Regions from separate parts of the Homo sapiens genome. Here regions 2, 3 and 4 are each reported to be linked to region 1. The links are microRNA targets in miRTarBase. Many come from high-throughput screens and were not tested one by one. Region 1 holds a microRNA gene; each other region holds the end of a gene's coding sequence.

Region 1 (7,117 bases):
AGTTTGGGGAGCTTGCAGCAGGGTGGGGGCTGCTAACCTTCACCTCCCACGGACTCCCCTGGGGTGGGCTTGGCTCTGTTCCAGAGGACGACACCGATGGCCTGACCCCGCAGCTGGAGGAGGACGAGGAGCTTCAGGGCCACCTGGGCCGGCGGAAGGGGAGCAAGGTGAGGACAGTGCCCTGCCCCCACCCACCCCGCTCAGCAGCCCTGCCAGCTCCTCACGCCCCTGCCCTGTGCTGGGTTGGCTGTGCCCACAGTGGAACCGGCGAAACGACATGGGGGAGACCCTGCTGCACCGAGCCTGCATCGAGGGCCAGCTGCGCCGCGTCCAGGACCTTGTGAGGCAGGTGGGCCCCGCTCTGGGACGTGGGACAGGCTGCCTAGCATGGAGGAGCTGTGCGTTTGTGCCGGATCCCCTATCTCTGTAACTCTCAACTTCCTCATCTTCAAAATGGGGCCCCTTAGCAAGCATGGTGGCACTTGCCTGTGGTCCTAGAGGCAGGAGGATCACTTCATCCTGGGAGGGAGATTGAGGCTGCAGGAGTCGCGATCATGCCACTGCACTCCAGCCTGGGCAACACAGTGAGACCCTGTTTCAAAAAAATTTAAAAAGCGGAGGCTGCACGGGGTGGCTTATGCCTGTAATCCCAGCACTTTGGGATGCCAAGGCAGGCAGATCACATGAGCCCAGGAGTTCGAGACCAGCCTGGGCACCCTGGCAAGACCTTGTCTCCAAGAAATTTAAAAATTAGGTGGATGTGATGGCGTGTGCCTGTAGTCTCAGCTGCTTTGGAGGTTGAGGTGGGAGGGTTGCTTGAGCCTAGGAGGTGGAGGCTGCAGTGAGCCATGATCTTGCCACTGCACTCCAACCTGTGTGACAGAGCAAGACCCTGTCTCAGAAGAAAAGCCACAGGCCGGGTACAGTGGCTTATGTCTATAATCCTAGCACTTTGGGAGGCTGAGGCGGGCGGATTGCCTGAGGTCAGGAGTTTGAGACCAGTCTGGCTAACATGGTGAAACCCTGTCTCTACTAAAAATACAAAAATATTAGCTGGGTATGGTGGCACATACCTGTAGTCCCAGCTACTCGGGAGGCTGAGGCAGGAGAATCGCTTGAACCTGGGAGGCGGAGGTTGCGGTGAGATGAGATTGCGCCGCTGCACTCCAGCCTGGGTGACAGAGCGAGACTCTGTCTCAAAAAAAAACACAAAAAAATGGGGTGCCCAGGCTGGGCGCGGTGGTTCATACCTGTAATCCCAGCACTTTGGGAGGCCAAGGTGGGCAGATCACGAGGTCAGGAGCTTGAGACCAGCCTGGCTGGTCTCAAAAAAAAAATGGGGTACCTGCTGTGTGGTATGCATCTGTGTTACAGCTAAGTTGGTCAGCCTGGCCAGGATGGGGGCTAGCCCATGGGCTGAGATCTGGGCACCTTCCCGCCCCGCCTGCCTCATGCCCCTGCGACCAGGTGCACTGTCTCCCCACAAGGGGACCGGGCAGGCACAGAGGCGGAGGATATGCTGTGGCTGGTCCACCTGTCTCAGGGGGAAGCATGTCCTTCACTGGTGACACCTAGGCCGGAGGAGGAGAGGGCAGGGCCACGGACTTGCTCTGGGCTCTAAGACTGAGGCCCTGGGCTCAGCTTAGGCTGCAGAGCTCACGGGGCTGGGGCCAGGCTGTGAGGTACACAGGGCCAGGCTCCTTCCTGTCCTTGGTCACAGGGCCACCCCCTTAACCCTCGGGACTACTGTGGCTGGACACCTCTGCACGAGGCCTGCAACTACGGGCATCTAGGTGAGCAAGGGACAGAAGGAGCCTGGCGCACCTTGGTGGACACGTGGGGCGAAGAGTCAGTCCTGGCGGGGCATCGGGAGCTGGGCTTACGTCTCCTGGTCTGCAGAAATTGTCCGCTTCCTGCTGGACCACGGGGCCGCAGTGGACGACCCAGGTGGCCAGGGCTGCGAAGGCATCACCCCCCTCCACGATGCCCTCAACTGTGGCCACTTCGAGGTGGCTGAGCTGCTGCTTGAACGGGGGGCGTCCGTCACCCTCCGCACTCGAAAGGTGAGCCTGGTGGGGCAGAGGGCAAGGGCGAGGTTATGGGGGCTGCTGTGCCCCTGCTCAACTGATGCCACACAGGGCCTCAGCCCGCTGGAGACGCTGCAGCAGTGGGTGAAGCTGTACCGCAGGGACCTGGACCTGGAGACGCGGCAGAAGGCCAGGGCCATGGAGATGCTGCTCCAGGCGGCTGCCTCGGGCCAAGGCAAGCAGGGCGTCCCTTGTCCCTGGGGTTGCTGTGCCTACGCTGAGAGTCCCCGGGCCCTGATTTCGGGAGATGCTCCATCACAGGTGGAGCGGGAGGTGCCGGGCCCCTGCCTCAACACGCATTCTCTCTCCCACAGATCCCCACAGCTCCCAGGCCTTCCACACCCCAAGCAGCCTTCTGTTTGACCCCGAGACCTCTCCTCCTTTGAGCCCCTGCCCAGAACCCCCCTCTAATAGCACTAGACTCCCAGAGGCCTCTCAGGCCCATGTCAGGGTCTCCCCAGGGCAGGCGGCACCAGCCATGGCCAGGCCTCGGAGGAGCAGGCATGGGCCAGCCAGCAGCAGCAGCAGCTCAGAAGGCGAGGACAGCGCAGGCCCCGCACGGCCGTCCCAGAAGAGGCCTCGGTGCTCGGCCACAGCACAACGGGTGGCAGCCTGGACGCCTGGCCCCGCCAGCAACAGGGAAGCAGCCACAGCCAGCACCAGCCGGGCAGCCTACCAGGCAGCCATCCGGGGTGTGGGCAGTGCTCAGAGCCGGCTGGGGCCTGGCCCACCGCGGGGCCACAGCAAAGCCCTTGCCCCCCAGGCAGCGCTCATCCCGGAGGAGGAGTGCCTGGCCGGGGACTGGCTGGAGCTGGACATGCCCCTGACCCGCAGCCGCCGGCCCCGCCCCCGGGGCACTGGAGACAACCGCAGGCCCAGTAGTACCTCTGGGTCGGACAGTGAGGAGAGCAGGCCCCGTGCCCGAGCCAAGCAGGTCCGCCTGACCTGCATGCAGAGTTGCAGTGCGCCAGTTAACGCAGGGCCCAGCAGCCTGGCTTCAGAACCTCCAGGGAGCCCCAGCACCCCCAGGGTCTCAGAGCCCAGTGGGGACAGCTCTGCGGCAGGCCAGCCCTTGGTGGGTATGCAGACCTGGAGCAGAGCCCTCTCCCCACTCCGGGCAGGCAGGTGTAGGGTGGAGCCCACTGTGGCTCCTGACTCAGCCCTGCTGCCTTCACCTGCCAGGGTCCGGCCCCGCCCCCTCCCATCCGGGTTCGAGTTCAAGTTCAGGATCATCTCTTCCTCATCCCTGTCCCACACAGGTGAGGCATCGCCTGCCCTACCCCGCAGCCCACCTGTGCAGCTCCATGCCAGGGTGCTCGTGTTTGCATGTCAGGGTGGGGCGTGTGACGAGGGCTCCCTGGTGTGTTCCAGGAGGATCCTGTGGCCCCCAGGAATAGCAGAGGGGCTGGTGGTGTGCTGGGCTGCAGGGAGAGGAGGGGCCGGCTACCTGGGAATGGGAGAAGCAGCTGAGGGGGCTTCTGGCCCTGGGCAGGGATGGCGGGTCCCTGGGGCATTACCCCGGCTGTGTGCAGGCAGCAGCAGCAGCGCCTCTGTCCCTGCAGCAGTGACACCCACTCTGTGGCCTGGCTGGCCGAGCAGGCGGCCCAGCGCTACTACCAGACCTGCGGGCTGCTGCCCAGGCTCACCCTACGGAAAGAGGGGGCCCTGCTGGCCCCACAGGACCTCATCCCTGATGTGCTGCAGAGCAATGACGAGGTGAGCCGCAGAGCGGAGGGGGAGCCAGGGCCTCAGGCACCGGGAGCCCCCGGGTGGCTCATGGCTGCAGAGCAATGATGAGGTGAGCCGGGGGAGCCCCCAGGTGGCTCATGACGGTGCCTTCCAGGTGTTGGCTGAGGTGACTTCGTGGGACCTGCCCCCGTTGACTGACCGCTACCGCAGGGCCTGCCAGAGCCTGGGGCAAGGTGAGGGCCAGGAGAGCTGCAGTTTCTGGGTGAGGTCGTACAAGGGGGTTGGGCACACAGGCTCCACCAGCCCGGTTCATTCCTGGGCCTCGGGTGTTTTGGGGTGCACCTCCCCCAGCCTGGTGGGTGCTGTGTCCTGCACTTGGATGTGTGGGTGGAAGGGAGAGGACAGCCCTCAGCCCCCATGATCTGCTGACAGGGAGATGGCAAAAAGCAGCCGAAAGCCTGGAAAGTCAAACCCAAGGAGGAGGGCCTGGCATGGGCTGGGAGCTGCTGGGGAAGCTTCCCAGAAAGCTTGTCCCGGGGGGTGTGGAATCTGGCAGTGACTGGTGGAGCTCAGGGTGCTGCAGACCCACCCCGGCCCCCAGGGCCTCACAGTGCTAGACCCACAGGCATGTGCGAGTGGGCTCTACAGCAAGTCTGGTGGGTGACCCCTGGGGCTGTTGAAAAGGGGCTGCCTGGTTTGCCCTCTGGGATTCAGAGGGCAGAAAGGGCCGGCCTTACCCTGGTGACATCACATCCCTCCCGCAGGGGAGCACCAACAGGTGCTGCAGGCCGTGGAGCTCCAGGGCTTGGGCCTCTCGTTCAGCGCCTGCTCCCTGGCCCTGGACCAGGCCCAGCTTACACCCCTGCTGCGGGCCCTCAAGCTGCACACAGCACTCCGGGAGCTGCGCCTGGCAGGGAACCGGCTGGGGGACAAGTGTGTGGCTGAGCTGGTGGCTGCCCTGGGCACCATGCCCAGCCTGGCCCTCCTTGACCTCTCCTCCAATCACCTGGGTCCCGAAGGCCTGCGCCAGCTTGCCATGGGGCTCCCAGGCCAAGCCACCTTGCAGGTATAGGCACAGAGAGCAGCAGGCCCTCAACAGCGGGGAGTTGGGGTTCCCATTCTGCAGGTCCCTGGGTGGTCTAGGGTAGTTGGGAGAGCCAGCCAGTGCCCGGCTGTAATAGGCTATGCCAGGCAAGGTGGGGAAGAGACTGCCAAGCCAAGCCCCAAGGGGGACCCTGTCCGTGGGACTGCTGGGGGCTCACTGCCAGCCTGTGTCTTCCACAGAGTTTGGAGGAGCTGGACTTAAGCATGAACCCCCTGGGGGACGGCTGTGGCCAGTCCCTGGCCTCCCTCCTGCACGCCTGCCCCTTACTCAGCACCCTGCGCCTGCAGGCGTGTGGCTTCGGCCCCAGCTTCTTTCTGAGCCACCAGACAGCACTGGGTAGTGCTTTCCAAGGTGAGCTGACCAGGCACTCCCTGTCCACTCCCTAGCCCTGGGGCATTGAGGGTTTCCAGGACTTTCAGAGGGGGCCCAGGCTGGGCACACAGGGGCAACACCTGTGGTCCCAGCTACTTGAGAGGCTGAGGCGGGAGTATCGCTTGAGCCAAGAGTTCCAGGAAAGCCTGGCCCACATAGTGAGACCCCATCCCTTAAGAAAAAAGCGTCTAGGCCGGGCGCAGTGGCTCACGCCTGTAATCCCAGCACTTTGGGAGGCCAAGGCGGGCAGATCACGAGGTCAGGATATCGAGACCATCCTGGCTAACACGGTGAAACGCCGTCTCTATTAAAAATACAATTAGCTGGGCGTGGTGGCCGGTGCCTGTAGTCCCAGCTACGCAGGAGGCTGAGGCAGGAGAATGGCATGAACCCGGGAAGCGGAGCTTGCAGTGAGCCGAGATCGCGCCGTTGCACTCCAGCCTGGGCGACAGAGCAAGACTCCGTGTCAAAAAAACGAAACAAACAACGTCTAGGGGCCTGGGATGCCAGACCTGGCTCTCCGGGAGGGCCTGGCACCTGGGAGCAATAGATGGATGTGTGGGTACAGGGTCTGCCTCCGAGGGGCGTCTGGTGCCCACCCAGCCAGGCTGACCCCCGCAGGACACACCGAGAGCAGAGTCCGGGCAGCTAGTGTCCTGTGGTCCCCATCCCGTGCTCGCCAGCTGAGTGCTGTTCGCCTGAGGCAGTTCCACTGTGAGCCCACTCAGGCTGCAGAGACTGGGGTCCCAGTGCCAAGAGGCTGGGAATTGGGTGTCATCCAGGGGGAGTGTAAGGGGGGCAGCAATGGTCAGTGCACTCCCCTGGCACCCCCACTGTGCAGAGGCATGTGGCCCAGGACCGTGTGGTTGTGGGGTGGGAGAGGGCAAGTTGTCCAGAACTGGGGGCAGCCGAGCTTGGAAGTCTGGCCCCGCCCTCCCAGCTGGGAGAATCTGGGCGAGAGCCTTTGCCTCTGCACTTGCCACCCCACCCTGCGAGCACTGCGGTAGTGGTTTCCCCAAAGGGGTCCTGAGGGTTCTGGGCCCAGAACTTGGGGTGGGTACAGGGCTGTGGCCACGTGGGGCTGACGGATTCTGGCCCCGGTGCAGATGCTGAGCACCTGAAGACCCTGTCCCTGTCCTACAACGCCCTGGGAGCCCCTGCCCTGGCCAGGACCCTGCAGAGCCTGCCCGCCGGCACCCTCCTGCACTTAGAGCTCAGCTCCGTGGCAGCCGGCAAGGGTGATTCGGACCTCATGGAGCCTGTATTCCGATACCTGGCCAAGGTACGAGGTGGGGAAGAACCCAGAAAATACTGAGCCTCAGAGGCCAAAGGTCCCAGGGTTGCTGGGAGGAGCTCGCCTCTCCCCAGATTCGGGCTGAACTCGCTGAGGGGCTCTACAGAGAGAGTTAGAGGTTTGGAGGTTTAGAAAAAACAGCTGGGGGGCCAGGCGCGGTGGCTCACGCCTGTAATCCCAGTACTTTGGGAGGCCGAAGGGGGTGGATCACAAGGTCAGGAGTTCAAAAGCAGCCTGGCCAACATGGTGAAACCTTGTCTCTAGTAAAAATACAAAAATTACCCAGGCGTGGTGGCGGGTACCTGTAATCCCAGCTACTCGGGATGCTGAGGCAGAGAATTGGTTGAACCCGGGAGGCAGAGGTTGCAGTGAGCCTAGATTGCACCATTGCACCCAGCCTGGGTGACAGAGCGAGATTCCGTCTCAAAAAAAAAAAAAAAGAAAGAAAAAGAAAAAAACAGGCTGGGCGTGGTAGCTTACGCCTGTAATCCCAGCACTTTGGGAGGCCGAGGCGGGCGGATCACGAGGTCAGGAGATCAAGACCATCCTGGCTAACATGGTGAAACACCA
Region 2 (7,094 bases), not on the chromosome of region 1:
CCTGACCTCAAGTGATCTGCCTGCCTCTGCCTCCCAAAGTGCTGGGATTACAGGCATGAGCCAGCGCGCCTGGCCACATATCATTTGATGTTTATGTTGTAGCTAGGTATATGGATGTAAAGTAACCCTGAGGGTCTGCCTCCCTCCTCTTTTTTTGATAACTGAGGGGCCCAGAGAAGCTAGTGCTGCCTGTATTTCTACAATGGGATGAATTTTTAGGCTATCATTTTTTAGGAATGTCTAGGTGTCATTCCTAGAGCATTGGCAAGTTGCCCTGACCAGAGTCCTCTCCTTAGCAACGGGTGGCTCTGAGGCCCCAGGTCCCAAGTAACCACTCTGACCAGTTTCCATACCCTCTCAAGCGTAGCCAGCTGTTTTCCCTCACCACAGACTGGAAACAAGGAGAAAGACGTCACTTTCACTTCATTCCCGTGGGACAGTCCTTGAGTCTCAAGGGAGGCTGGGAGTGGCAGTGAAGGGTGGGGAGGCATGACTGCATCTCCGGAAGCTGCTGGGGTGGAGTCTCACTTCTCATCAAACAGAAGGACAGCTGGGGATGTTCTCATCTCAAATAGAGACTATTTGGCAAACAGCAAATATATTTTGAAGGGCTCTGGGCGCCTCAGAGATGTGACTGCATAGTGTGGAAGTTGTCAGAATCAAAATGGAGTCACTTGTGCTTCAAACAAACAAGCAAACAAATAAAAAACCCTGACAAATAGAGCTGGGGAAGGCCATGAAGGATTCTCATGCAAAAATGCTTGATAACAAAAATGATCACAAGGCCGGGCGTGGTGGCTCATGCCTGTAATCCCAGCATTTTAGAAGGTTGAGGCAGGTGGATCACTTGAGGTCAGGAGTTCAAGACCAGCCTGGGCAACATGGCAAAATCCCATCTCTACTAAAAATACAAAAAATTAGCCAGGCATGGTGGCGGATGCCTGTAGTCCCAGCTACTAAGGAGGCTGAGACAGGAGAATTTCTTGAATCCAGGAGGCAGACGTTGCAGTGAGCTGTGATTGCATCACTGCCCTCCAGCTTGGGTGACAGAGCAAGACTCTGTCTCTAAATAAATAAATAAATAAAAATGATCACAAAAGACTGCAAAAATCTCAACCTTGCACAAAGCCCTTCACCGCCTTACACAACAAACACTTCTATGAGGACATCTGCCCAACAACTGCCTGTCTAACCTTGGAATGGCATCCCCCTTGCTATTGATCCTTATAGCCAAGGATAATTATCTTAAAACAGTGATCTAATCCTCATTTTTTCCTTTAAGAACCTTTGTTTTCCTTCACCTTCCTAAATATGTACATAGTTTACTCTGGCACACGTGTTCCCCTTGTAATACCCTATTCCCAAATCAGTATCATTTCCTTTCAGAGAGCCTCTCTCTGTTGTGGCACTTCAAAGACATAGTGGCCATAGTGACTATGCAGGCTTCTTTAAATGTTATGTACCAAGAAGTCCTTTTTTTTTTTGAGACAGATTCTTGCTCTGTTGCCCAGGTTGAGGTGCAGTGGTGTCATCTGGGCTCACTGCAACTTCCACCTTGTGGGTTCAACCGATTCTCCTGCCTCAGCCTCCTGAATAGCTGTGATTACAGGCACCTGCCACTGCGCTGGGCTGATTTTTGTATTTTTAGTAGAGACAGGGTGTCACCTTGTTGGCCAGACTGATCTTGAACTCCTGACCTCAGGCGATCCGCTCACCTGAGCCTCCCAAAATGCTGGGATTACAGGTGTGAGCCGCCGTGCCCTGCCAGAAGTCCATTTTATGTGATTTAAACACTATGGACAGAGACGTTATTTTATTTTATTATTATTTTTTGAGACAGAGTCTTGCTCTGTCGCCCAGGTGGAGTGCAGTGGTGCAATCTTGGCTCACTGCAACCTCTGCCTCCCAGGTTCAAGTGATTCTCCTGCCTCAGCCTCCTGAGTAGCTGGGATTACAGGCACACATCACCACGCCCAGCTAATCTTTGTATTTTTAGTAGGGACGGGGTTTCACCATGTTGGTCAGGCTGGTCTCAAACTCCTGACCTCATGATCCCTCCTGCCTCAGCCTCCCAAAGTTCTGGGATTACAAGCGTGAGCCCCCGCACCCGGCCTATTTTATTATTATTTTTGAGACAGAGTCTCGCTCTGTCACCAGGCATGCAGTGGCACGATCTCTGCTCACTGCAACCTCTGCATCCCAGGTTCAAGCAATTCCCTTCGCTCAGCCTCCTGAGTAGCTGGGATTACAGGCATGCACCACCATGCCCAGCTAATTTTTGTATTTTTAGTAGAGACGGTGTTTCACCATGTTGGTCAGGCTGGTCTCAAACTCCTGGCCTCAAATGATCCGCCCACCTCAGCCTCCCAAAGTGCTGGGATTACAGGTGTGAACCACTACACGCAGCTTACCTTCTGGGTTCTAATAAATATTTATGAACAGTGAAATTTGAATATCATAGAATTTTCATGTGTGATGAAATATTCTTCTTTTGACTTTAACTATTCCAAGATGTAAAAGCTATTCTTAGCACACGGGTTTTACAAAAACAGGGAATGGGCTGATTTGGCAAGTAGGTTATGGATTATGCCCTGTCAACGGATTATTTATAAGAGTGCTTCCAACTCAAAAATTTTGACAATGTACTTAGCTTGACTTTATTTTTCTTGAGACAGAGTCTTGCTCTGTTGCCCAGGCTGGAGTGCAGAGGTGCCATGTCAGCTCACTGCAACCTCCGCTTCTCGGGCTCAAGTGATTCTCCTGCCTCAGCTTCCCAAGTAGCTGGGATTACAGGTGTGAGCCACCACGCCCAGCTAATTTTTGTATTTTTAATAGAAACAGGTTTTCGCCATGTTGACCAGGCTTGTCTCAAACTCCTGACCTCATGATCCACCCACCTCAGGGTCTCAAAGTGCTCGGATTACAGGTGTGAGCCACTGCGCCTGGCCTTGACAGTGTAAATACTAATCCCATCAATTAGTCATTTATTTTACTAAGGAGAATGAGGCATTTCATTTCAGAAAATACTATTTAAGGCTGGGCACAGTGGCTCACACCTGTAATCCCAGCACTTTGGGAGGCTGAGGTGAGCGGATCACCTGAGGTCAGGAGTTTGAGACCAGCCTGACCAACATAGTGAAACCCCATCTCTACTAAAAATACAAAAATTAGCTGGGTGTGGTGGCGCACATCTGTAATCCCAGCTACTCTGGAGGCTGAGGCACAAAAATCGCTTGAACCCGGAAGGCAGAGGTTGCAGTGAAGTGAGATTGTGCCACTGCGCTCCAGCCTGGGCAACAGGGTGAGACTGTGTCTCTAAATAAATAAATGGGGTGGCACAGATGCACTTACCCTAACAGAGTTGATTTGCCCTCTGTCCTGCTGGGCTGAAACTCTTTCCTGTTCTCCTGCTATAGATGTATCCTCCACTCCTCGCTGGCCACCATCCTGCTGCCCAACAGAAGAAGCTCTTCTGTCTCCGATTTCCTGAACGGTCTAAGGTAAGTCTTTACAACTCCTATCTACAACTTCTTCCTCCAAACTTGTCTACTTAAGGTGCACCTAATGCATACAACAGATGCTTCACAGGGAGACTTGTGTGCATGGGGTGGGAGTGGGCCTTGTTTTTCTAACTCTTGCCACTGCAGACAGCATGGTACACAACACTTAAGAGAGTTAGCCACTTTTGCCGGACACGGTGGCTCACGCCTGTGATCTCAACCCTTTGGGAGACCAAGGTGGGTGGATCATGAGGTCAGGAGTTCGAGACCAGCCTGGCCAACATGGTGAAACCCCATCTCTACTAAAAATACAAAAATTAGCCAGGCATAGTGGTGCACGCCTGTAATCCCAGCTATTCGGGAGGCTGAGGCAGGAGAATTGCTTGAACCTGGGAGGTGGAGGTTGCAGCGAGCTGAGATCGCGCCACTGCGCTCCAGCCTGGGCGACAGAGTGAGACTCTGTCTCAAAAGAAAAAAAAAAAGCCACTTTCTTACCAGCAGTACAGGGCCCCAACTGCCTCCCATGTAGCTGGGATTATAGGTGCCTGCCACCACACTCAGCTAATTTTTGTGCTTTTAGTGGAGACAGGCTTTCACCATGTTGGCCAGGCTGGTCTCGAACTCCTGACCTCAGGTGATCTGCCTGCCTCGGCCTCCCAAAGTGCTGGGATTACAGGTGTGAGCCACCGTGCCCAGCCTATAAATGGATTTTAAATACATATCCTTTGAACAACAGAGCCCGACAGTACTGACACAATCAGATGACTTGCGTGCTCAGTAGATAACATTACTATTGATTAATCAGTTAATTCTCTTTATTGCCCACAAATCCCTGCCTTGGTCAACACAGTGTGACTTGTCACATATAAATGAAGTGCTAATGTGCCTTCTGCAAATCCCCCTTATAACTTTTATATTTTTGAGACAGGGTCTCTTGCTCTGTTGCCAAGGCTGGAATGTAGTGGTGTAATCATTGCTCACTGCAGCCTTGAACTCCTAACTCCTAGGCTCAAATGATCCTCTGGTCTCAGCCTCCTGAGTAGCTGGGACTACGGGTGTGCACCACCACGACTAGCTAATTTTTTATTTTTTGTGAAAACAAGGTCTCACTATGTTGCCCAGGCTGTTCTCAAACTCCTGGCCTCAAGCGATCCTCCCATCTTGACCTCCCAAAGTGCTGGGATTACAGGCATGAGCCACCATGCCCAGCCCTCTTTTTTTTTTTTTTTTTGAGATAGGGTCTCGCTCTGCCTCCCACGCTGGAGTGCAGTGGCATCATTTCGGCTCATGGTAACCTCCGCCTCCCAGGCTAAAGCATCCTCCCACTTTAGCCTCTCAAGTAGCTGGGACTACAGGTGCATGTCATCATGCCTGGATAATTTTTGCATTTTTCATAGAGACAGGGTTTCACCATGTTGCCCAGGTGGGTCTAGAACTCCTGGCCTCAAGTGATCCACCCACCTCAGCCTCCCAAAGTGCTGGGATTATAGGCGTGGGCCACTGCACTAGGCCCTGGCCTTCTTTATAACCTTTGGAGGATCAAGTGACATCCATAGGAAGTGTTTGCTGAGTTCCCATGAGGCCTCAGTAGCTCTAGCAGGTGTTATTTAAGAAAAAACAAGTTTAGATTGAGTAATTTTAGAAAGCTGAAACTCTGCAGAAAATAGGCTACAATAAAGAAAACACTTCACATAGACTTTAAAAAACATGCACTATACAATCTTTTATTTCCAGTTTAAAAACAAAATCTTAAATTACTAGGAGTATATTTACAAGATTAATTACATTTTAAGCCAGCACACCATGGATGTACATGAAGGGCCACTCGGTGTCCCTCGCTGGGACAGGTTGTGTGACCTGCCCAAGGGGCTCCGGCTCATTTGCCAAAGTCAAGACGACGACCAGGTCTTCTGACTGCTCAGCCCAACCAATAATGAAAAAAGTATCAGAGATGTGTCATATCCATTTTGCTAACAAGCAATTACATGCCTTTTTAGTGTTTAAGAGAAGCCTTAATTTTCCTGGGATATCTCCGTAAAATCATTCTGGAATTTGATTTTGAAAATTCTTTAAGAAAAAAAAAAAAAGCTTGTCACCCCCATGAGACCTGCTGTCTCTCATGTCTGCAGGGACAGGCCTTTTAGAGGCAGCAAAAGGGAATACTGGTCTCTGGAAAGTCCAGACAGAACTCTAGCAGCTCCGATGGCTTGATCTCTTCCAGGGAGCCAGTGGGCTAGGCCCATGCTTTGGTTCAAAGCGTTTGGAGAACATCTTCTTGCTCCTTTTCCGGAAACGAGATAATGGACACAGAGTCCCAGACGTCATCCTTTGGTGAGCTGTCCTTGTCCAAGGCCTCTAAGATGGGCTGAGTTGGGTCTTTTAAATACTTGAGGAGGTTGGAAAGCAAAATTGTAATTAGTTTACCAGTTCAGTATACCAGACCTTTTAACTTTAGTTTTTGTTTTTATTTTATTTTTATTTTTATTTTTTTTTTGAGATGGAGTCTTACTCTTGCCTAGGCTGGAGTATAGTGGTGTGATCTCAGCTCACTGCAACCTCTGCTTCCCAGGTTCAAGCGATTCTCCTGCCTCAATCCTCCAAGTAGCTGGGACTACAGGTGCCCACCACCTTGCCTGGCTAATTTTGTATTTTTAGTAGAGACAGGGTTTCACTATGTTGGCCACGCTGGTCTCAAACTCCTGATCGCAAATGATCCACCCACCTTGGCCTCCCAAAGTGCTGGGATTATAGGCGTGAGCCACTACGCCTGGCCTACTTTAGTTTTAATTGGTATAGTTATTTTATTCAGATATAAGTTGATTCTGTCCACCAATGACATAACTTATTTTTCTTTTTATTCAACAATGAAACAATTTTTTTTTTTTGAGACGGAGTTTCACGTTGTTGCCCAGGCTGGAGTGCAATGACACGATCTCATCTCACTGCAACCTCTGCCTCAGCCTCCCAAGTAGCTGGGATTACAGGCATGCACCACCACACCCTGCTAATTTTGTATTTTAAGTAGAGACGGGGTTTCCCATGTTGGTCAGGCTGTCTCGAACTCCTGACCTCAGGTGATCCGCCCGCCTCGGCCTCCCAAAGTGCTGGGATTGCAGGTGTGAGCCACTGCACCCGGCAACAATTTTTTATTGTTGTTGAGTCAGTCTCTTTTTCGCCCAGGCTGGAGTGCAGTGGCGCGATCTCGGCTCACTGCAACTTCCGCCTCCTGGGTTCAAGCAATTCTCCTGCCTCAGCTTCCCAACCAAGTAGCTAGGATTGCAGGCGTGCACCACCACGGCTGGCTAATTTTTTTTTTTTTTTTTTTTTTTTTGAGACGGAGTCTTGCTCTGTTGCCAGGCTGGAGTGCAGTGGCGTGGATCTCAGCTCACTGCAGCCTCCGCCTCCTGGGTTCAAGTGATTCTCCTGCCTCAGCCTCCCAAGTAGCTGGGACTACAGGCGCATGCCACCATGCCTGGGTAATTTTTGTATTTTTAGTAGAGACAGGGTTTCACCCTGTTGGCCAGGATGGTCTCGATCTCCTGACTTCATGATCCACCCACCTCGGCCTCTCAAAGTGCTGGGATTACAGGCATG
Region 3 (7,117 bases), not on the chromosome of region 1:
AATTTTGCTACTCTGGAAAATCCAGATGTGGTATAGCTTCCTGAAAGAGGCCATGAACATGTCTTCCTTATGAAGTTACCATCTTTTTAGAAAAGAATGCATAAGCCCTGGTATAAGGGTGAGGGGCAGTGGAATGATCATTGGTCTCAGCCTGAAAAGATCTATCTACTCAGTCATTTTCTAGCTGTGTGATCCTGGACAAATAAAAACCTCTCTAGCTTCATTAAAATTATTTATACAATTCAAGTGATATTTATTTACTATTTCATTGGCTGGTTGAAAACCTTGTATGAGAATTAGAGCTTTATAAACCAAAATTGACACATAAATGTAGGGCTTCAAAAAATCACTATGAGCATAATGAAGTGGCTAAGACACAAAAGGTTGCCCAAGAGAAACAACTCAAAATTAATCCATGATCAGATATGGCACTGTAAAGTCTAAGAAAACATTGCTCCAAGCCTATTATATTCCTCTGAATTCACTGGTCCATTCTCAAGCAAGTATGCTGTGACGAGACTACTGACCGGGACATATGTCCATTGGCTGGTTATTTTTGAAACAAATTTTCCTACACTGGATAATTAAAAACACAGCTATGTACATTTGTCTTCCTGGTTGGCCCTCCTTTCAGAAATGGTCTTTATGTTAATTCATTTTTAACTCATGCCCAGAGACATTTCTGAAAGTATATACCAAAACACTATATTTCTGCCTCCTTGAAAAGCCAGAGCTACACACACACATACCGCTAAGCCTACTTGGGGCTTTGAAGCACAACCAACTGCAGCTGAAAGGCAGGCTCTTGTACTCTCTCCCTCACTCTAGGGACTATTATTGCTTTCTCCATGCAGATTCTGCTATAAGCACAATAAAAATCAATGAAGACTTGGAACAGCTAAGACTAATATTTAAAAAAACGCTGAGGCTCCCGAAGTTCACATTCTTGCAAATTTTAGATAATGCCCCAAATATAAGTCACTCTTGATCATATACACACTCCTGTGTGTGCAAGCATAGTGTTCTAGCTTTCTACCACTCTGACCCAAATACTCACCCACGGTGTGCCTTCCTCCCAAATCCTTTCCTCTGGGTACCCTAAAACCTGCTTCTGAGGTAAAAGCCCATCCTAGAGCCCCCGCTTCCTTCCATTGCTCTGTTGAGCCTGACTGAAGAAACCAACTGTAGATCAATGAACTTTCTGTCACCTCTCTTCCTAAACCAGGCCATACACTGGAGGCCAGGATAACTATCAGTCCAGGGCCTTGGCTACTTCTAACCTTCTCTGGTCAAGTCAAAAATCTGTCTTCCAATTTACTGAGATAAATAAAGAGTGCAGGGTAACTCCCTCAATGTCTCTTCTCCCATTTCAATCTCCCTTTCCTCCAGTCCTTCATATCAAAAGGCACGTCCTTCCCCATAAGACCAGTTCCTCCAAGCTGATGTCTAGAGGAGAAGACATTGAAAATGAGGAAATCAACAGATGGTCGTTGTAGTAATACAAGTGAGAGGTAACAAGGGCTGGAACTAGAACTGAGGCTTCAAGAATGTTAGTATGTCCCCTCAGCCTCCCTCAACTGGAATTTTCAGAGAACCGGCAATCAGTGATATAACCACTAGCACAGGTGTGCATGCCCTTGCAAAACTAGTATCAGAGGAGAAAGGAAGAAACTTTACAGCATACTTCCATTCTCTGGAAAAAGATGGTTGAGAAGAGGCAGAAAGAAGAAAATAGTATAGAACAATGATCCCTAAAATTAGATTATGTAAAGTAACTTCATAGAATGTTGGAAGAAAATGTCTATTTATATTTACATTTCATCTTAAAAGAGGAGGAAATTACCTTTACTAACATTTACTACAGACTGACACTGCTACCATCTCTCCAGTGACATCGACATCGTTTGCATCTTCTCACGATCTGTAGCTTAGGTGACCCAAGGGCAGAGTGGAAGTCCCAACAGTTCCCACACTCTTTGGGTTGCTTTTAGCATGCAGCAAACCGAAGTTTATTTATGTCAAGTTGGGTGAATGTACAGATTTTTATTAACTCTTCTGAATTAAATAATCTTTACAAAAAAAAAAAAGGCTTAAACAGATCCCTGCAACAGAACCGTGGATTTAAGATGTTTATAATGCAAGAAACAAACAAGCAATAAGAAAAATGGCAGAGACAACGCTTCTCCTAGAACAAAGGAGTTAAATATCAGGCGTTAAACCAGAGAGAATCTCATCTGATTTGGCAAAACTCAGCCACACCAGGAGTTAAACCAGAAAGAGTCTCATCTGATTTGGCAAAAACTTGGCCAAAATAATTATGAAGACTATTTGAACTAAGGATGTACACCAATGTTGTTAGGATAAATTTTAAGATTAGAGTGAGCCCTGAGAAATTAGCTAATGATAAAATATGTGCAAATAATATCTTGGGATAAATTAATATATATATATATGGGGGTGTTTGCACAGAAAAACTTTTACTGATAAGAAGATGCCAACCAAGAAGTCTAGAGGCCATTGGCATAGAAGTTGGAGTCTAAGGCTGTGGGAACTACATTTCCTAGTCTTTGCGCTGGGGCAAAAATAACTGTACTTTAAGATTAGTAACATTCTAAAAGAATGTTTTATTTTTATTTGGGGGAAATTGTTGAAAACTTCTTAACCTCTATTTTATTTTCTTCTCTGTTAAAGTCTTTTAATTTGCAATAATGAAGTATGATAAAAATGTGGGTAAACTAATATTATTCCCTTAACACACTTTGCTTTACATATATTCTTAACTTAGCACATGAGAAGTAGTAGCAAGAAAAAAAAGAAACCTATTTTTGTTATACTTCACCCTAGCTAGACACTCAACATCTACATAGACGTTAAGAGTTACATAAAATCAACCAAAGTTGCAGAGTTTGGTAGGTTAAGTCAGATATTTCAAATAGTCATACAAACTATTTCCTGCCCAAACACCTTGTCCTTTACTCTACTGACTTCCAAGCAGATTTTGGTAACTGACAAGTCCATCCTCAACATGCCTGAAAGGACCTTAGTTACTAAAGTATTATACTAAAAGACAAAGCTCAAGTGTCTTTGCCTTCTTTGTGGGACCCCAGTGGCAGTGGCATCAGACATACACAGACAAGCAGGCATGGCAAATGTACTGTTTGGTGGTATCAGATCACCATTTAACAATAAAAACACACATTTCAAAGCACCTTGTCAAAAAGGAATAGATAACTGTATCTCATTACAATTTCCCTTACTACAAATACGGAAAGCAACTTTTAAAATGATCCAAAAAAGGAAACAAGATCCTTTCTTCTCCTCCGCCTCCTTTTCATTTTACAGGTCAATCCCGGACAGCCATGGGGGCACTTCCCAAACTCTCCCACCTATATCCGAGACTTGGCCAGGCCCATCTACTTCTGCACGGATGTCAAAGAGGACAGTCCACTATTTCCAAAGAAGGTAGCAGTACATGCGAATTAGGAGCTTTGATTTTTAAAACAAAAAAAGTCCACGATTCAACTTCCCTAATGCTTAAGATTCAATTTTTCCAATTAAGATTTTTAGAGTTGAGATTCACTGTAGTGTTCTTTTTTTTAAAGAAAAAAAAAAAAAAAAAAACGAAAAAAAGAAAGAGAAAAAGAAAAGAGAAGGAATGTGTGTAGGGTGGGGAAGAGGTTTCTGTTACATTAACTGAAACTTACAGGACACTAGAGAAGTCAGCCTGAGGCTCTAGGACTATTAGCACAAGAGGAAAGAAATGAGTAGGCATCATGTCAAAGTTTGAAAAGCTCACCTGGGGCAAATACTGACAACTGGGAGCAGTTCCTTAAGACTTCTCTTATTTTAAACCACTTATCTTTTCCAAAAAGCTTATTTTACTACTTAAAAAGAAAAACCCCTAGCTCTTTCGGAGGGGTAGCATAGAAACAGACTGAGATAAAAATCATTGCCTTAAATTTGTCTTTGAAGTGGAAATGTGATCATATGCAAAGCACTAAAGGAATAAAAACAATTTCAATTGCCTTCTAAGATGACATGTTAATAATCAAATGCATGAACTAAATAGCATGTGATCTCATAGGTTAGAATTCCCCTTCTCATCAAGGGCTCCCACCTGAGACCCATGCCTGGACAAAGAAGGGATTACTATTGCTTAAAAATAGCACCTAATTTATGCCAATAGAAACTCCAGGCTCTTCAGTGTTGGCCTCCACTGAAAAGGCCAAGAAAGAAAAATGTAATAATGTTCCCTTGAATCTGAACACCATCAGTGACATTTGCTACAGCAAATCCACAAAGTTATGCAGAATGTTGGGACCCTCATACCTAAAGTTACAACCTGCCATCCTTCTGAGGATATCTGATACTATTTTCATATTCAGGAAAATTTTACAATTTGACTTTTAAATGTACAGAGGCCAGAAGAATACTACTATATTACCTTAATTAAATCTGTAATCCTGCCACACATCCCTTGCTTTTTAGTGACTTATTAACTGATTCCCTCTTGAAGAGGGGAGGGCAGGAACCTTATAGTTTCATGTCACTTACAATGGCTGGTGCATGGCTAATACTTATTAGAAATATTTGTTGAAAGAGTGGTTAACATTATTATAACTCCCTGTTTTTGATGTCCCCCAAATTTACCCTATTTGTTTCTTAGTAAACATATATCATACATATAACCTTTATTTAAAACAAATAATAGAAGAAGTTCACTTTAAATAATCAGGTATTCCATATATTCAAGTGAATATGTTTTATTAAATGCATACTAATATCTTTCTATAGTATGTGAGTACACATAATAAATTAAAATGTATATATTTATTAAATATAGATAGATATAATACCAGAACATGATTATTTCAGATGAGAAATCAAAATAAACCCATTTTTAAGTATCTTTTGGTCACTCCAAATTGATATTGCTCATAAAAAAATACACTAGTTTTCCCTGGGGAAAAAAAATTAATTCCATAGCAATGCAGTTAAGGGACGTGTTTTATTTCATAGCTTTCTGCAAGCAAAATTGCTCTGATACAAAATGAGTTCAATGATACAGGTGCTACTGTCCACTCAAGCAAAAGAAAACCTCACATGTATATGAACGCACTTTATACTTATATTCTTACAGTATAATAGGTCTAATATCCAGGATGCCTCTGGCCTCATTGAAAGCAATGGCAGAGAAATGCTGCAAGGTACTTGAATATCATAGTACTGGCAAGTGCTTGAAGTAACTTCCTGTGAGTTCTCTGTCAGATACTGCAAAGACTGCGTGTGGGTGTGTTTGTCTTTTTGTCTTCCATCTTTTGGTTTACATTTAAATCATCTCAAAAAATATCCCCTGCATGTATCATTCAGCTTCTCAGAGTTTCCATAAAAACAGGAAAATGTCATGAGGTATCCCTAACGTCAGGGATTGATGTAGTGCTGTGGCTGTCAGAGAGGATGTAGACTTACCTGTAGGTACAGTAACTGAGTTTAGTGTGTGCCCGGCACGTTACAGTGCAGAAATGTTAGTTCATGTTAAACTTTTCCTCCTCACATATGATGTGACTTTAACCCCAGAATATCTGACAAAAAAAATTATACAGATAAAATAAAAAGACAAATACACAAATAAGGCCATCTGCAGAATTTTAAACTCGCCTCTTGCAATATTTCACAAGAATTTCTACACCATATTTTACATCGTTCAAACTTAAATAATAAATGCTCAAGGAAGGGCCTTGGTAGAACCAATTGCACTATCTCTTTGAGGACTTGTCCAATTTGCTGGCAGGTGATTTCCTCTGGGGCGTGGGGATTTTTGAAGGCTTCGCTGTGGATGGCCGAGAACCTGCTCGGGGTGTAGGTCTGTGTGTCTGGGGGACAGTTTCCACATCTGAGCACACGGACTGGATTTCTGAAATGTCAAAGTCTGATGCATCACTGCCTCGGCGGCTGCTGGCCCTGCTGCCAGCTTTGCTTCCAGCTCGACTTCCTGGTCGGCTGGGAGTCTTCTTGGAATCTGAGGAAAGAAGGTAGAGACAGCTCACCCTTATTATTGGGTCCATCTGCAACTAATTTTTGAAACCCGATGCCACCTTTAATCTTAACTTTTTTTCCTGGTGTGTAGTAGGCACTCAGAAAACAGTTGTGGATTCACAGCCTTTCTCTATTACACAAGGGTATGCAGGCTTACTCTAAGTAGACATAATATAGAAAAGGCTAGATTTCCAACTACAAGGTAAGTTTCGGCTTCCCCTACTTAAAACAGGATTCCATTTATTGCAAACAGACATAAGGAATATACCTATCCTTTAAGATTGTGCTTTCTAAAGTTTAAATTATGCCTCCAGGGATGCGTGTGATGCAAACATAGAACAAACAAGACAGGTTTAAGTCTTGCCCAAGAATAGGTAACTCCAAGAATGTAGGAATTCAACAGATGAGATTGGAAACTTTAAAGAGGCTTCTTGCTTGCTGAGCTCAGAACCCAGAGATTAGTAGGTTCATTATTTTGCGAAGCAATGTGAGCTACACTGGTGTGAGGCTCAGTGTGGCTGGGTTCTTCCAACCACCCCAAAACAGGGCCCTGTGCAATCGCTGAGCTGGCAGAAGAGCCAAAATCTTTCAGCTTGAAGGGGTAGAATACCACTGTATATTTTCCTCTGTTGTACAGTAATTCTTTCATCTTTCTTGGACACTTTTAGACACTTGCACCCATGACTCACTTTATCCCCAACTTTTGGAGGACTGGGGCTACATATCATTTTAAGACTACCTCAGGGTCAATTTGTAATTTCTTCCCCAATGAGGAGGAAAAGGGACTTTAATCCTCAGATGACCATGCTGCAAAAGCCATTGAAAAAAGAAAGGCACCACACTCACCAGCAAACTGTGTTCGGACTCTGGCAGCTGCAGTTGTTATCAAGCCACTGTCCTCCCCAGAGTGGAAGCCTTTCCCTGATAAATATCCTGGAAGTCGAAGCTTGCTTCCTTGTATTGGCGTTCCCTGTATTTAACCAGCAACAAGACATTTCAAAATATTGCTCCTGTACCATGATATTCCACTGACACCACTTCTTTACATATGGGTGGAAACTCTCTACTATTCCTCTTTAGG
Region 4 (7,112 bases), not on the chromosome of region 1:
AACCCTTCTTGGCTCACAAAGCCAGAGGAAACTGACACGAGTAATGGACCTTCTGCCTAGAAATACACTCCTTAGCATAACATTTCTGGGTCTTCCAAAAACCTTCTGTTATCTCCTGACTGAACAGCCTAGTGGATAAACAGAGGAAATGAGAAGTCAGGAGATATGATTACCGCTGGGAGATCTGAGGGGAGGGGCCCGTGGGCTGCTAGGGCCAATGATATTCCTTTTCCAGTTCTGGTGCCGGCAACTTGGGGGTGCCGTTTGCAAAAAAGCCATGGAAGGAACTGTACACTTTTGTGCACCATTTGTGCACAGAATGTATTCATTTTATACCTGAAGAAAAAAGAACTGTAAAAAAAAATTAAGACCAAATATATTAGAAAAAGATTTGGTAGGAGATGCTCCAAACTGTTGACAATGGTATTCCTACCAAGTGGGATTATGGCATGCTGCAAGGACTAAACACTGCTGTATTGTTTGAATTTTTATTTTTATTTTTAGATGGAGTTTCTCTCTTGTTGCCTAGGCTGGAGTGCAATGGCGTGATCTCGGCTCACCACAACCTCCACCTTCCAGGTTCAAGCAATTCTCCTGCCTCAGCCTCCTGAGTAGCTGGGATTACAGGGGTGTGCCAGCACACCCGGCTAATTTTGTATTTTTAGTAAAGACAAGGTTTATTTTTTTCTTTTTGAGATGGAGTCTCACTCTGTCGCTCAGGCTGGAGTGCAGTGGTGCGATCTCGGCTCACCGCAAGCTCCGCCTCCCGGGTTCACGTCATTTTCCTGCCTCAGCCTCCCAGTAGCTGGGACTACAGGTGCCCACCACCACGCCTGGCTAATTTTTTGTATTTTTTTAAGTAGAGATGGGGTTTCACCGTGCTAGTCAGGATGATCTCGAGCTCCTGACCTCGTGATGTGCCCGCCTTGGCCTCCCAAAGCGCTAGGATTACAGGCGTGAGCCACCACTCCTGGCCTTTTTTTTGTTTTTTGAGACGGAGTCTCACTCTGTCACCCAGGCTGGAGTGCAGTGGTGCGATCTTGGCTCACTGCAAACTCTGCCTCCCGGGTTCACGCCATTCTTCTGCCTCAGCCTCCCGAGTAGCTGGGACTACAGACACACGCCACCACACCCAGCTAATTTTTTGTATTTATTAGTAGAGATGGGGTTTCACCATGTTGGCCAGGATGGTCTCGATCTCTTGACCTCGTGATCCACCCGCCTTGACCTCCCAAAGTGCTGGGATTACAGGCGTGAGCCACCACGCCCGGCCAGAGACAGGGTTTCGCCATGTTGGTCAGGCTAGTCTCGAACTCCCGACCTCAGGTGATCCACCCGCCTTGGCCTCCCAAAGTGCTGGGATTACAGGCGTGAACCACTGCACCCGGCTCGAATTTTAACTTTTTTTTTTGAGACGGAGTCTCCCTGTTGCCCAGGCTGGAGCACAGTGGCACAATCTCGGCTCACTGCAACCTGTGCCTCCCAGGTTCAAGCGATTCTCATGCCTCAGCCTCCTGAGTAGCTGGGATTACAGGCGTGTGCAAATGCACCTGGCTAATTTTTGTATTTTTAGTAGAGGCAGGGTTTCACCGTATTGATCAGGCTGGTCTCAAACTTCTGACCTCAGGTGATGCCCACCTTGACCTCCCAAAGTCCTGGGATTACAGGGGTTAGCCACTGTGCCCGGCTGAATTTTGACTTTTATAATAAATCGCTATAAATTATTTGGCATTAGAATACAAAAGTCACCGAAGAGCCAAGTTTTAGGCCAGGCATAGTAGTTCATGCCTACGATCCCAGCACATTGGGAGGCTGAGGTGGGGAGATCGCTTGAGCCCAGAAGTTTGAGGCCAGCCTGGGCAGCATAGAGAGACTCCGTCTATACAAAAAATAAAAAAAATTAGCCAGGCATGGTGGCACACACTTGTAGTCCCAGCCACTCTGGAGGCTGAAGTGGGAAGATTGCTTGAGCCCCGGAGGTTGAGGCTGCAGTGAGCTATGATCGCACCACTGCACTCTACCCTGGTGGGCAACAGAGTGAGACCCTGTCTCAAAAAAAAAAAAGAAAAGAAAAGAAAGAAAAAGATTGATTTTTTTTTCCTGAGGTGTTCACAGCAGGTGTTCAACAAAACTTTGTACGATGGCAATATTCAGTATCTCTGCAAGTCAATACAGTAGCCACCAACCACGTAAAGCTATCGAGAACTAATTATAATTCATTGACTTTATTTATTTACTTATTTTTGAGTTGGAGCCTCACTGTCGCCCAGGCTGGGGTACGGTGCTGCAATCTTAGCTCACCGCAACCTCCGTTTTCCATGTTCAAGTGATTCTCATGCCTCAGCCTCCCCAGTAGCTGGGATTACAGGCATGCACCACCATGCCCAGCTAATTTTTTTCTATTTTTAGTAGAGATGTGGTTTCACCATGTTGGCCAGGCTGGCCTCAAACATAAATGATCCACCTGCCTCAGCCTCTCAAAGTGTTGGGATTATAGGCGTGAGCCACCGCGCCAGGCATAATTCATTTACTTAAGATTTTTTTTTTTTTTTTTAGAAACAAGGTCTCACTCTGTCACCAAGGCTGGAGTGCAGTGGGACAATCATAGCTCACTGCAGCCTCGAACTCCTGGCCTCGAGTGATCCTCCCACCCGCCTCAGCCTCCTGAGTAGCTTGGGACTACAGGCACAAGCCACCAAGCCTGCTAATTATAATTAATTAATTCATTCATTCATTTATAGATGGAGTCTTGCTCTGTCACCCAGGCTGGAGTGCAGTGGGGCAATCTCAGCTCCCTGAAACCCCCGCCTCCTGGGTTCAAGTGATTCTCTGGCCTCAGCCTCCCGAGTAGCTGGGACTACAGATGCCCGCTACCATGCCCAGCTAATTTTTTGTATTTTTAGTAGAGACAGGGTTTCACGATGTTGCCCAGGCTGGTCTTGAATTCCTGACCTCAGGTGATCCACCTGCCTCAGCCTCCCAAAGTGCTGGGATTACGGGCGCGAGCCACCGCGCCCGGCCTCATGTACTTTTAAATGAAAATAGCCACATGTAGCTAGCGGCTACACTATTGTTGGGTGCTGGTCTAGGACAGAGCATGAAGGTGTTTACTGTGATATTCTTGCAACTGTTCTGTAGCTTTGAACACTCTCCAAAATAAGTCCATTTTGAAAAAGAGATTTGCAGCAGCTCACGTGTGTAATCCCAGCACTTTGGGAGGCCGAGGTGGGAGAGTGGCTTGGGCAACATAGCAAAACCCCGTTTCTACAAAAAATTTAAAAATTAGTCCAGGCGCAGTGGCTCACGCCTGTAATCCCAGCACTTTGGGAGGTCGAGGCGGGTGGATCACTTGATCAAGGTCGGGAGTTCAAGACTGGCCTGACCAACATAGTGAAAACCCATCTCTACTAAAAATACAAAAATTAGCTGGGTGTGGTGGTGGGTGCCTCTAATCCAAGCTATTTGGGAGGCCGAGGCAGGAGAATTGCCTAAGTCCAGGAGGCGGAGGTTTCGGTGAGCCTAAATCACACCACTGCACTCCAGCCTGGGAGACAGAGGGAGACTCCGTATCAACAACAACAACAACAACAAAAAGTCAGGGGTGGTGGCGCAGCCTGTGGTCCCAGCTAGTCGGGAGGTTGAGGTGGGAGGATCGCTTGAACCCTGGAGGTAGAGACTGCAGTGAGCTATGATTCGCACCACTGCACTCCAACCTGGGAGACAGAGTGAGACTCTCCAAAAACAAAAAGTGGTGGCTCACACCTGTAATCCCAGCACTTTGGGAGGCTGAGGCGCGTGGATCATCTGAGGTCAGGAGTTTGAGACCAGCCTGACCAACATAGCGAAACCCCCGTCTCTACCAAAAATACAAAATTAGCCGAGTGTGGTGGGCACCTGTAGTCCCAGCTACTTGGGAGAATCGAGGCAGTAGAATCACTTGAATCCAGGAGGCAGAGGTTGCACTGAGCCAAGATCGCGCCACTGCACTCCAGCCTGGGTGACGAGAAGCAAAACTCCGTCTCAAAAAAAGAAAAAAGAAAAAAAAAAGGAAAGATATCTATCTTAAAGCTTAAAAGGGAGCACAGCGAAAAAAGAAAAGACACAGAATCATCAACATTATTGGTAGCTTTATTAAATTTGTTTACCTTCTAAAAAAAACGATTACAAAAAAGAATACTTCATTTAAGTGTAATACTGGCTTTATGGACGTACCGTGATCAGAAAGTGAAATTAAAGCTCATGGATATGCGTGAGAAGAGAATGGGCGCAGAGGCACGAGTCCAGTATCCCACGGAGAGAAGGAAGTGTAGAGAGATGCGTGGACCCATCTCAGGGGTCACGCATTCCTGGGCCAAGGAGTTGCTTCTAAGAGCTTAAAATAAATGCACTGGCTGGCTCCAGGGCTGGACACACAGGCACAGAACTCTTGTACCGCTTCTCAAAGCTGCCCAAAGCTGCGACCTTCCCCCTCAGACACCCACAATTAATTGTTTCCAATCAGCTTTGGTTTTGTTTTCTCTGCAATTTACATGCAAACACCATCTATCTATTCATCCATCCATCCATCCATCCATCCATCCATCCATCCATCCATCCATCCTGCTTGTCTCCTTTGACCAGCCAAGCCCTATTTTGTTTTACGTACATTCCCTTCACTAAAAATCAAAGCAAGCCAGTCTACATCAAGCCAAGAAACCTACTTTTCTAAGGAGAGAAACCAGTGCTTTGCCTTCTTTAATGAACCTGCGAGCTCTCAGCGCTTTCTCTTGCTGAAATGTGGCTTTAAAGCCTTGGAGGCTGAGCTCACTGGCCTCGAAAGGGCAGCGCGCGTATTTGGTTTGGAGCGCACTCCTGATCACAAAGCACATTTTTAGAGGCTTGGAACCCTTCCCTTTCTGTTGCTCACCAAGGAAAAGGCACAAGAAAGACAATGATGTGGAGATTCTTAGGGGACCAAAACAGGCCATGAAGGAAACTGTGAGTGTCTCTGGCAAGCCCCGTTTCCCGCAGGCTCTGTTCCAGGCAGCTCCGGAAAGTCTCTAGGTTGTTAAAAAGCCCAGCTGGCCCATGTTTGGTTTTCAGCAAAGCCCTGTCTCTTGAAGTTTGCGCTGGGAGGCCTGGGGACGGCCAACTTTTAATCGTACACACATGGGGTTTTTGGGAGCCGGCCCTGCGTTTTGCCAACAAGCGCATGCCCTGTTTTCTTTCCTTTGAGGAGAGAAATTCTGGAGTCCCGGGGAGGAACAGGACGGCCCTGTGACCATAGTCTGGGGCCTGGCGGCGGGGACGCAGAAGCCACCCTGAGAGCCAGATTCTTTTCCTGCGTCTTCAGGTCTGAAGGATTTTCTAGGAAAATTAACATTTGCCAAGGCCTCCATGTGGGGAAGGGAGGGGTTTCTGGGTAATTTGTCTCTTTTTCTTTTCTTTCTTGAGACAGGGTCTCGCTGTGTCGCCCAGGCTGAAGTGCAATGGTGTGATCATAGCTCACTGTAGCCTCGACCTCCAGGGCTCAGCCTCCCAAGTAGCTGGGACTACAGGCGCGCACCACCACGCCTGGCTAGTTTTTAAATTTCTTGTAGAGATGGGTCTTGCTGTGTTGCCCAGGCTGGTCTTTAACGTCTAGGCTCAAGCTCAAGCTCTTGCCTTGCCCTCCCAAAGTGCTGGGATTACAGACGTGAGTCACCACGCCTGGCCGGTAATTTCTCATTGTGAATTGATTGGGTCCCTGTAAGTCACAGAGCCTGTCCTGAGTCCCTTCATCTGAATGAGGGTGAAAAGACTGAGTTTTCTGTCCCGGGTGACAAGGACAGAATCTGTCTTGTGAAACAACCAGAAGAAAATTCCCCTAAGAAAGCCGTCTAGCGGGGCAGTGGACACAACACTATTCTATATCAGACAATTAAATGTGGGGGATGAAGGGTGAACCCCAACTGGTGCGTAATAACACTTAGGATTAAAATGAAAATATGCAAGTTCCAGTGACTTTCAAATCTGGCAACAAATCCTAAGATTCCCACCCCCTCCTGCAACAATGATTCAAAAATACAATATTTTTTTCCTCTCCCTCTTCCTCCATCCATAATTACCAGCTGATTGTTCTCAATGTTCTTCATAAAACCCACACCCCAGCATCAGCCCTGGCGCCAATGTATACAAGAATTTTGCTTCGGTCTGCGCTGTGGCCACTTTGAACAGGGGAGCCAAGAAAACCCACTTGGAGCTGGAGTCCTGTGGCCGTCGGGGCTCCCCCAGGGAAGCAGAGGGAGAGCTCGCTTGCCTTTGAGCCGTGGGCCTTGGGGAGTGTGAGTGGGGTGGGCCAGGGAGGAACGGGAACAGGGAGGAGACGGGGACAAGGGACGGTTTGCTCCCGGTCTGGCTGGTCCCCGCCTCCCTCACGGCTACTCTTCTGCCGAGGATGATGTAGGGCTCTCGTCATCTGACATTGGGGCAAACTGAAACAGAGAAGCAGAATTCTTTTTGTTTGGGATCCTTTCCAATCCCCCGAGGCGCCAACGTGGTGGCTGGCCTGGTAGATATGATGGGTAAGCAGGAGGGAGGCGTGGCCCCTGGCCCCAAGGAGGTGGCGATCTGGGGGCACCGCCTTGAAGAAGCAAACTCATGACTGTGGTTGAGGATGTTCACCGGGGGTGAGGGATGCAAAGGAATGAGGGTGGACAGTGGCTGGTCAGGGAGGGTGAGTTCTCAGCTGACTGTGAACGGCATCAAGGAGCCAGCGAGCAGGGAAGAGCATTCCAGGCAGCGGAAACAGCACGTGCAAAGGCCCTGGGATAAGTGCAGAGGGGTGTGGCAATAAGGCCAGTGTGGCTAGAGGGGGAGAGAAACAGTAGTGGGGAAGGTGAGGGTGGTTGTGCAGGGCCTGGTGGGCTTTGGAGAGGACCCTGGCTTTTTCTTTTCTTTTTTTTGAGACAGAGTTTCACTCTTGTTGCCTAGGCTGGAGTGCAATGGCATGATCTCAGCTCACTGCAACCTCTGCCTCCTGGGTTCAAGTGATTCTCCTGCCTCAGCCTCCTTAGTAGCTGGGATTACAGGCAGGCGCCACCACGCCCGGCTAATTTTGCGTTTTTAGTAGAGATGGGGTTTCTCCATGTTGG

The links. Region 1 holds the annotated microRNA hsa-miR-6893-3p (CCCUGCUGCCUUCACCUGCCAG, at 3,248-3,269, shown strand). A microRNA usually pairs through its seed, bases 2 to 8, with sites in the 3' UTR of a target mRNA and lowers its output. Matches are read on the target gene's strand: a 7mer-m8 pairs with bases 2 to 8, a 7mer-A1 pairs with bases 2 to 7 and ends in A, and an 8mer does both.
Region 2: the mRNA of IFNGR2 is a reported target of hsa-miR-6893-3p. Seed matches in the 3' UTR shown: 7mer-m8 at 5,607-5,613.
Region 3: the mRNA of DST is a reported target of hsa-miR-6893-3p. The part of its 3' UTR that is shown has no 7-base or 8-base seed match.
Region 4: the mRNA of KANK2 is a reported target of hsa-miR-6893-3p. Seed matches in the 3' UTR shown: 7mer-A1 at 4,598-4,604.

The regions. Positions count from the first base shown.
Region 1 is chr8:144,431,703-144,438,819 of GRCh38, reverse strand. It overlaps MIR6893 (microRNA 6893), which reads left to right and starts at 3,201; the gene lies at 3,201-3,269. It overlaps TONSL (tonsoku like, DNA repair protein), which reads left to right. Exons shown (of 26, transcript NM_013432.5): 12 at 85-167; 13 at 260-349; 14 at 1,721-1,793; 15 at 1,900-2,063; 16 at 2,139-2,262; 17 at 2,402-3,162; 18 at 3,270-3,346; 19 at 3,650-3,803; 20 at 3,931-4,009; 21 at 4,541-4,842; 22 at 5,061-5,232; 23 at 6,360-6,535. TONSL-AS1 (TONSL antisense RNA 1) reads right to left here and starts at 3,652. Exons shown (of 6, transcript NR_109770.1): 1 at 3,380-3,652; 2 at 1,825-2,069; 3 at 1,074-1,121; 4 at 487-592; 5 at 38-143.
Region 2 is chr21:33,435,620-33,442,713 of GRCh38, reverse strand. IFNGR2 (interferon gamma receptor 2) reads right to left here. Exons shown (of 7, transcript NM_005534.4): 7 at 5,198-5,886. The coding sequence ends at 5,752. It also overlaps a transcript of TMEM50B not described here. Among named protein-coding and RNA genes, the nearest start is that of IFNGR2, 36 kb to the right of the region's middle.
Region 3 is chr6:56,453,249-56,460,365 of GRCh38, forward strand. It overlaps DST (dystonin), which reads right to left. Exons shown (of 104, transcript NM_001374736.1): 103 at 6,883-7,006; 104 at 4,748-6,019. The coding sequence ends at 5,757. Among named protein-coding and RNA genes, the nearest start is that of COL21A1, 210 kb to the left of the region's middle.
Region 4 is chr19:11,160,160-11,167,271 of GRCh38, forward strand. KANK2 (KN motif and ankyrin repeat domains 2) reads right to left here. Exons shown (of 13, transcript NM_001136191.3): 13 at 4,111-6,452. The coding sequence ends at 6,399. Among named protein-coding and RNA genes, the nearest start is that of SPC24, 7.9 kb to the left of the region's middle. RefSeq lists an enhancer at 6,087-6,587.